Linked DNA regions of Homo sapiens: region 2 is linked to region 1. Evidence: fine-mapped expression QTL. A gene starts in region 1. The other region holds a variant in brackets. All regions are shown on one strand. Distances are between the middles of the regions.

The links. PIP is the estimated chance that this variant, and not a neighbour inherited with it, causes the effect.
Region 2: its variant is fine-mapped to the expression of PDXDC1 in lymphoblastoid cells (GEUVADIS, PIP 0.95).

Annotation. Positions count from the first base shown.
Region 1 is chr16:14,973,738-14,976,650 of GRCh38, forward strand. It overlaps PDXDC1 (pyridoxal dependent decarboxylase domain containing 1), which reads left to right and starts at 1,289. Exons shown (of 23, transcript NM_015027.4): 1 at 1,289-1,483. The coding sequence starts at 1,463. RefSeq lists a silencer at 155-449 and an enhancer at 607-1,370.
Region 2 is chr16:15,009,118-15,012,030 of GRCh38, forward strand. It overlaps PDXDC1 (pyridoxal dependent decarboxylase domain containing 1), which reads left to right. Exons shown (of 23, transcript NM_015027.4): 8 at 564-642. MIR1972-1 (microRNA 1972-1) reads right to left here and starts at 1,280; the gene lies at 1,204-1,280. The variant C/T (reference allele first, on the strand shown) is at 1,593.

The sequences.
Region 1 (2,913 bases):
TTGGAAAGCTCTTTAGAGAGTCAGAATAATCCCCACAGTACAGTCTAAACCAGCACACAAGGGTTTTTTGGTAGAAAATAATTTTATTAACATAACCAGGCAATTTACCAAATACAACGTAGATAGCTCAAAACATGGAGTTACTGCGCTGAAAATGTGACCCTGTTTACACAGATTTCGGGACGAAGAGTATAAAACAGGAGAGAAAAGGAGTAAGATTGTGGTTGTAGCGTCATCGCAGAGGTGAAGTGTTCCATTGATTGCCACTGTGGTAGTCTATATCAGTTTCCCACATTAAGGTGGGAGGAATCTACTAAGCAAATGTACGCCCTCCCCATTCGTTCGAAACACATTGCAGTAAAATTGCAAAAGTGGCCGGGCGTGGTAGCTCATGCCTGTAATCCCAGCACTTGGGGAAGCTGAGACGGGAAGATCGCCTGAGGCCAGGAGTTTGAAGCCAGCTTGGGTAACATAGTGAGACACCCCTACCTTCTCTATTAAAATGAGATTTTAATTTTTTTTCTCTTCAGTTCATCGGTTAACAAGATAAAAAAATTAATAAAAAATTAACTTTTTAAAACATTTAAAGTAAAGTAGGAGTGGAAGCAGTATGTGGACTCATGGGGCTTGGGTCTGAATCCTACCTAGATCGGCACTGCGAAATGGGGATAATGATCTCCTAGAGCTGCTGAAATAGGAAAATGGAAGAACAGCAGCTGATGTATTAATATTATCATTATTACTACTACCCATTACCTGACAAGTGATAATTGTGACATGAAAGAGGCTGGACCGGTTGTTACAACAATTTTTTCCGTCTAGAATTCGGCGGTAAGGTCTGAGACAACACCTCAGCTTAGATCAGTGCCTTCTCTGAACAGCGTTCACTAAGCAGCCCCCAACCCCAAAACCCCCAAGTCCCCGGGCGCCGAGGACGCTGCGAGTCCTGCGCATGCGCAAGGTTGCCCACTCGCTCACCGCCTCCTTGGCGAATGGCCTGTTCCATTCTCGAGGGATGCCGGCGGGAGGTGAGGCGGGAGACTTGGAAGCCTGGGCCCGGAAGTGAGGTGCGTCACTAGTATTTCCAGCCTTTCACTCCATGAATAGTACTTTGTGATTATTATACTTCTACCTTGATGATTGCAACAGGCTGCTGGAAAGAGTTTGGTGAACAATCCACCGGGCATCCTCCCCCCTTCACCTGCGCACGTTAGGGAGGGCCGGCGTGGCGCCCAGGTACGGAATCCCAGAGGGCTCCGCCCAGCGCTACGGGGCCCCGCCCCGCCGCCTCTCAACCATCAGGTTCGGCAGCCCGCGGCGCCGCCTGGCAGCTCCTCCTCTTCTCCGCCCCGCCGGCCGCGGGCGCGGGGGACGTCAGCGCTGCCAGCGTGGAAGGAGCTGCGGGGCGCGGGAGGAGGAAGTAGAGCCCGGGACCGCCAGGCCACCACCGGCCGCCTCAGCCATGGACGCGTCCCTGGAGAAGGTCCGTGCCGGGAGGGGGCGATGGGGACGGTGCTGCGGCCCGGGGCTCCCGCTTCCGAGGCAACTGTTTCCCAGTCGCGAGCTGCCATTGTGACCCGGACAGGGGGACGCGGGCTGACAGGCCCTGCCTGAGGAGGCCTCGCCGGGAGGGCGGCTGGGGCCCGGGCGCGTCACGGGGCCGGGTGTCTCTTGGGTCCCCGTGGGCCGAAGAGGCTGGGCGGGGTTCGGTGGGGGCCGCGACGGGCCCGGAGCCCAGGACTGGGACCGCGGGGCCGACCTTGGGCCCTGCCGAGGTTCCGCGAGTGGCCGGCCTGAGCTCGGCTGGCCCTTTCGGAGGACCGGGAGCTCTCCGTTGGCGGCCCCAGATGCTCCCGGAAAGAAGCCGCAGTTATTTCAGAGCCAGCTGCAAACCTGTAGGTTTTTCTTGGTCTCCGAGTTAGGAATGAAAATTGCCAAAGCAGTGGTTTTCCAACTTCAGCCTGAGTGGGAATCACCTGGGGCCTTTGGTAAAATGCGGAGGTTCAGTCCCGGGGTCAGAACCTCTGGGGGCGGGACCGGGAACTGCGTGTTTAACCGCCACCGCCCCGCTCCCACTCCGCCCCACGCAGGTGATTCTGATGCTGAGCCTGCGATCACCGGGCGAGAACCTCTGAGTTCCAGAAAGGGGTGGGTGTTGCGTAGATTGCGAATTGAGTTTTGGGGATCGCAGCTGCTCCACAACTTCCTGGCTCCCCCATTCCAGTGGCGAGGAGGGATCCCCGAGTCAACTCGAAATCCACTGGTAACAGAGCCTACCTCTGGTTTCCCCTTGGGGGAACGGCAGCGTGGTGTACCAGGCTGACTGCTCTACCATGTGAAACGGATTCTCATTGTCCCAGTGTTAGGGCTTGTAAATGGAAACCAGTTTGGGTTTCTTCACGGATTCCTGCTTTCGGTACCTGACATTCTGCCCTCCCTCAAAGCCCTTCTGTCTGTTCCAGCTTGGGAGTCTGCTTGTCCAATCCAGTGCATACCCGGTTTTTCATGCATGTGGCATTCAGGAGCAATGCTCGTGTTTTAAGACGGCTACATTTTAATTTTGAGCTGGTAGGAATAATATATTTTGTCTTTTTTCAAGGCAGCAGCTGCTGTAGATTTTGTTCACTTGTCACTGGAGAGTTGAAGGCAATAATTGTAAAGGTTGGGCCAGATGTCTTCATGTGCTCACAGTGGTATAGCCTACTCCTGGGTTGCTTAGCATAAATTGGGTGGAAGACAAGAAAAAGATAATATGGTTTTCTTGTGCCATCTCTGGGGTGAATGTTACGTGTTTTCCTGGCTGGGAATAAAGTCTTTCCGGTCGTCTGATTAGCAGGGTGTCTACCTTTTGGTACTTTGAGTTTGTCCAGATGAGTGGTTCTTAAAGCAGGGGGCAATTTATTTCCCCAGGAG
Region 2 (2,913 bases), 35 kb after region 1:
GAAATTTCTTCTGAAGCTCCTACTTTTAATGAGTTAGCACTGTTGCCTGGATTTATGAATGGGCAGATTTTGAAAATGAGGTTCTTCATTGTCATCATGGAATTGAGTTCTGCTTATTTTCAGACATGCAGGTGATAAATCTCTCCTTAATGATTCCAGAAGGAAAAGGAAGGGATGGATTTTAGAGTTTTTTATTTCTTTTGTCAAGGTAGTTTTATTTTCTAGTTCAGGTACATCAGTGAGTAATAGTAGAGATACATTCTTGGCTGTTTTAGGAGAGTTAAGAGAACATTTCATTTAAATGTAAATGTTTAAAATCAAAGAAATGTTCCTGCATATGTACAGTTTTTACCTTTAATTTTGTTTAACTGATTTTTCTAGTCTTCAAGGAAAACTATTTGATTTTCACATCTATGATGAGAGAAAACAGAAAAATTGTCAAGAGTAAGAATTGATTTGACATTACTTTTGAGAGTTATCTGCTTCTTTTGTAAGTCATAATTTTTCATTTTATAGCTTTTATACTGGGCACCTCATTTTTTAATGATTTGTTTTGGTTCCAGGATGTTGCCTTCCTGGAGAAACTGATTAAAGATGATATAGAGCGAGGAAGACTGCCCCTGTTGCTTGTCGCAAATGCAGGTAGGTAGCATGATGCTGAATCTACCATTTTGAATATATAGGAGCGAGGCTACGTCCTCAGCCTATAAAAGATAAAGTCTTAAGAAATGTGTGTGTACCACATGTTTAAGATAGTCCATATCCACATTGTAGCAAAAACTGTAATAGTAAGGTTGGCTCGTTAGATTTTTCTTTAATCGTTGGTTTGTTTTGGAAGTTATTTTATGTGTGTGTATACTTTTTCATTTAGATGGTAAATGCTTCTCTATCTTCTCCTTCATGTACTTCTTTTCCCTGTTCTAAACTGAATTTTATTTTATTTTTTTGAGATAGAGTCTCACTCTGTTGCCCAGGCTGGAGTGCAGTAGCACAATCTCACCTCACTGCAATCTCTGCCTCCCGGGTTCAAGTGTTTCTCCTGCCTCAACCTCCTGAATTGCTGGGATTACAGGTGCATGCCACCACATCTGGCTAATTTCTTGTATTTTTAGTAGAGACAGGGTTTCACTATGTTGGCCAGGCTGGTCTCGAACTCCTGACCTCAGGTGATCCGCCTGCCTCAGCCTCCCAAATTGCTGGGATTACAGGCATGAGCCACTGTGCCTGGCCTGAATTTTTAAATGACACATTTAAGCCAGGTGTGGTGGCACATGCCTATAGTCCCTCTACTCAGGAGACAAGCAAGATGTTGGCTTAAGCTCAGAAGTTCAATACCAGTCTGGGTAACATAGCAAGACCCCATCTCAATAAATAAATAAAAATAATTGTACTGACGTTGTAAGATTGTTGTAAAAATTAAACAAGAAAATTCATAAGATGTCACACTTAAATATCTACCTTATAGGCGGCAGAGCAACTACCACTTGCTGCTCCATTTATCTCATTCAGCATCATACTTGAAATCTAAGACAGTGCAATAAGGCAAAAAAAATAACTGACAGATTAGAAAGGAAGAAATAAAACTTTGTTTG[C/T]AGGCATGATTGTATAGATAGAAAACTAAAGAAAAGCTACTGGAACTAATGATCAAATCTAAACCATTTTCTGGATTTTTACATACTAGCAAAGAAGAATTGGAAATTGAATTTTAAATGTCATTTATAATAGGATCAAAAAAGATGAAAAATTTATGGATAAATTTAACAAAATATATGCAAGATCTGTACATTGAGAACTAAGAATGTTACTGAGAGAAATTCAAGAAGACCCAAGAACGATATGCCATACACACGGGTTGGAAGACTAAGTATTAAGTCAGTTCTTCCCAAACTAATCTGTAGATTCAACTTGATCCATCTTAAAATCTCAGCAGGCTACAATTTCTTAATAGAACTTGATGAGCTAATTCTAAAGTTTATATAGAAATACAAGGGATCTAGGAACAGCCCAAGGGATTTTGAAAAAGAACAAAATTGGAAGACTTACCTTGTCATACTTCAAGACTTCTGTAAAGTAGCAAGTAAGACTGTGTGAGATTAACCAAAGAAAATAGAGAATTCAGAAATAGACTCATGTGAAGTATATGGACACTTCAGGTTTTTACAGATGCCTGAGTAATTCGAGGGAGAAAGGACCATCTTTTTCCATCAGTGGTCTTAGAGCTTGGATATCCATATGGAAAAAAACTGAATCTTAACCCTTATCTTATTCTCTGTATATATAAATATTAACTATAAATGGTTCATCAACCTAAGCATAGATCTAAGACAATAAAATGTCTCAAAGAAAATACAGGAGATCTTTGTGACCTTAGGTTACATTTCTTAGGATACAAAATATGTGAACCATAAATTGTACTTTATCAAAAATTAAAAGCATTAGCTGTTTGAAAGCCCCTATTAAGAAGATGAAAGGCAAGTTACAGACTGGGAGAAATATTTGCAAAACATTTTTTTCTTTTTTTTTTTTTTTTTTTGTCTTTTTCTATTTTTATTTTTTATGTTTTTGAGATGGAGTTTTGCTGTGCTGCCCAGGCTGGAGTGCAGTGGTGCGACCTTGGCTCACTGCAACCTCCGCCTCCCAGGTTCAAGCGATTCGCCTGCCTCAGCCTCCCGAGTAGCTGGGATTACAGGCGCACGCCACCGTGCCGGGCTAATTTTTGTATTTTTAGTAGAGACGAGATTTCGCCATGTTGGCCAGGCTGGTCTCAAACTCCTGACCTCAGGTGGTCCACCTGCCTTGGCCTCCCAAAGTGATGGGATTACAGGCGTGAGCCGCCACACTCAGCCAGCCACTGTCCCAGTCCTGTCTTCTTTTAAAATTTCTTTTTCATTCTTTTCCCCAGAAGCTACAAAA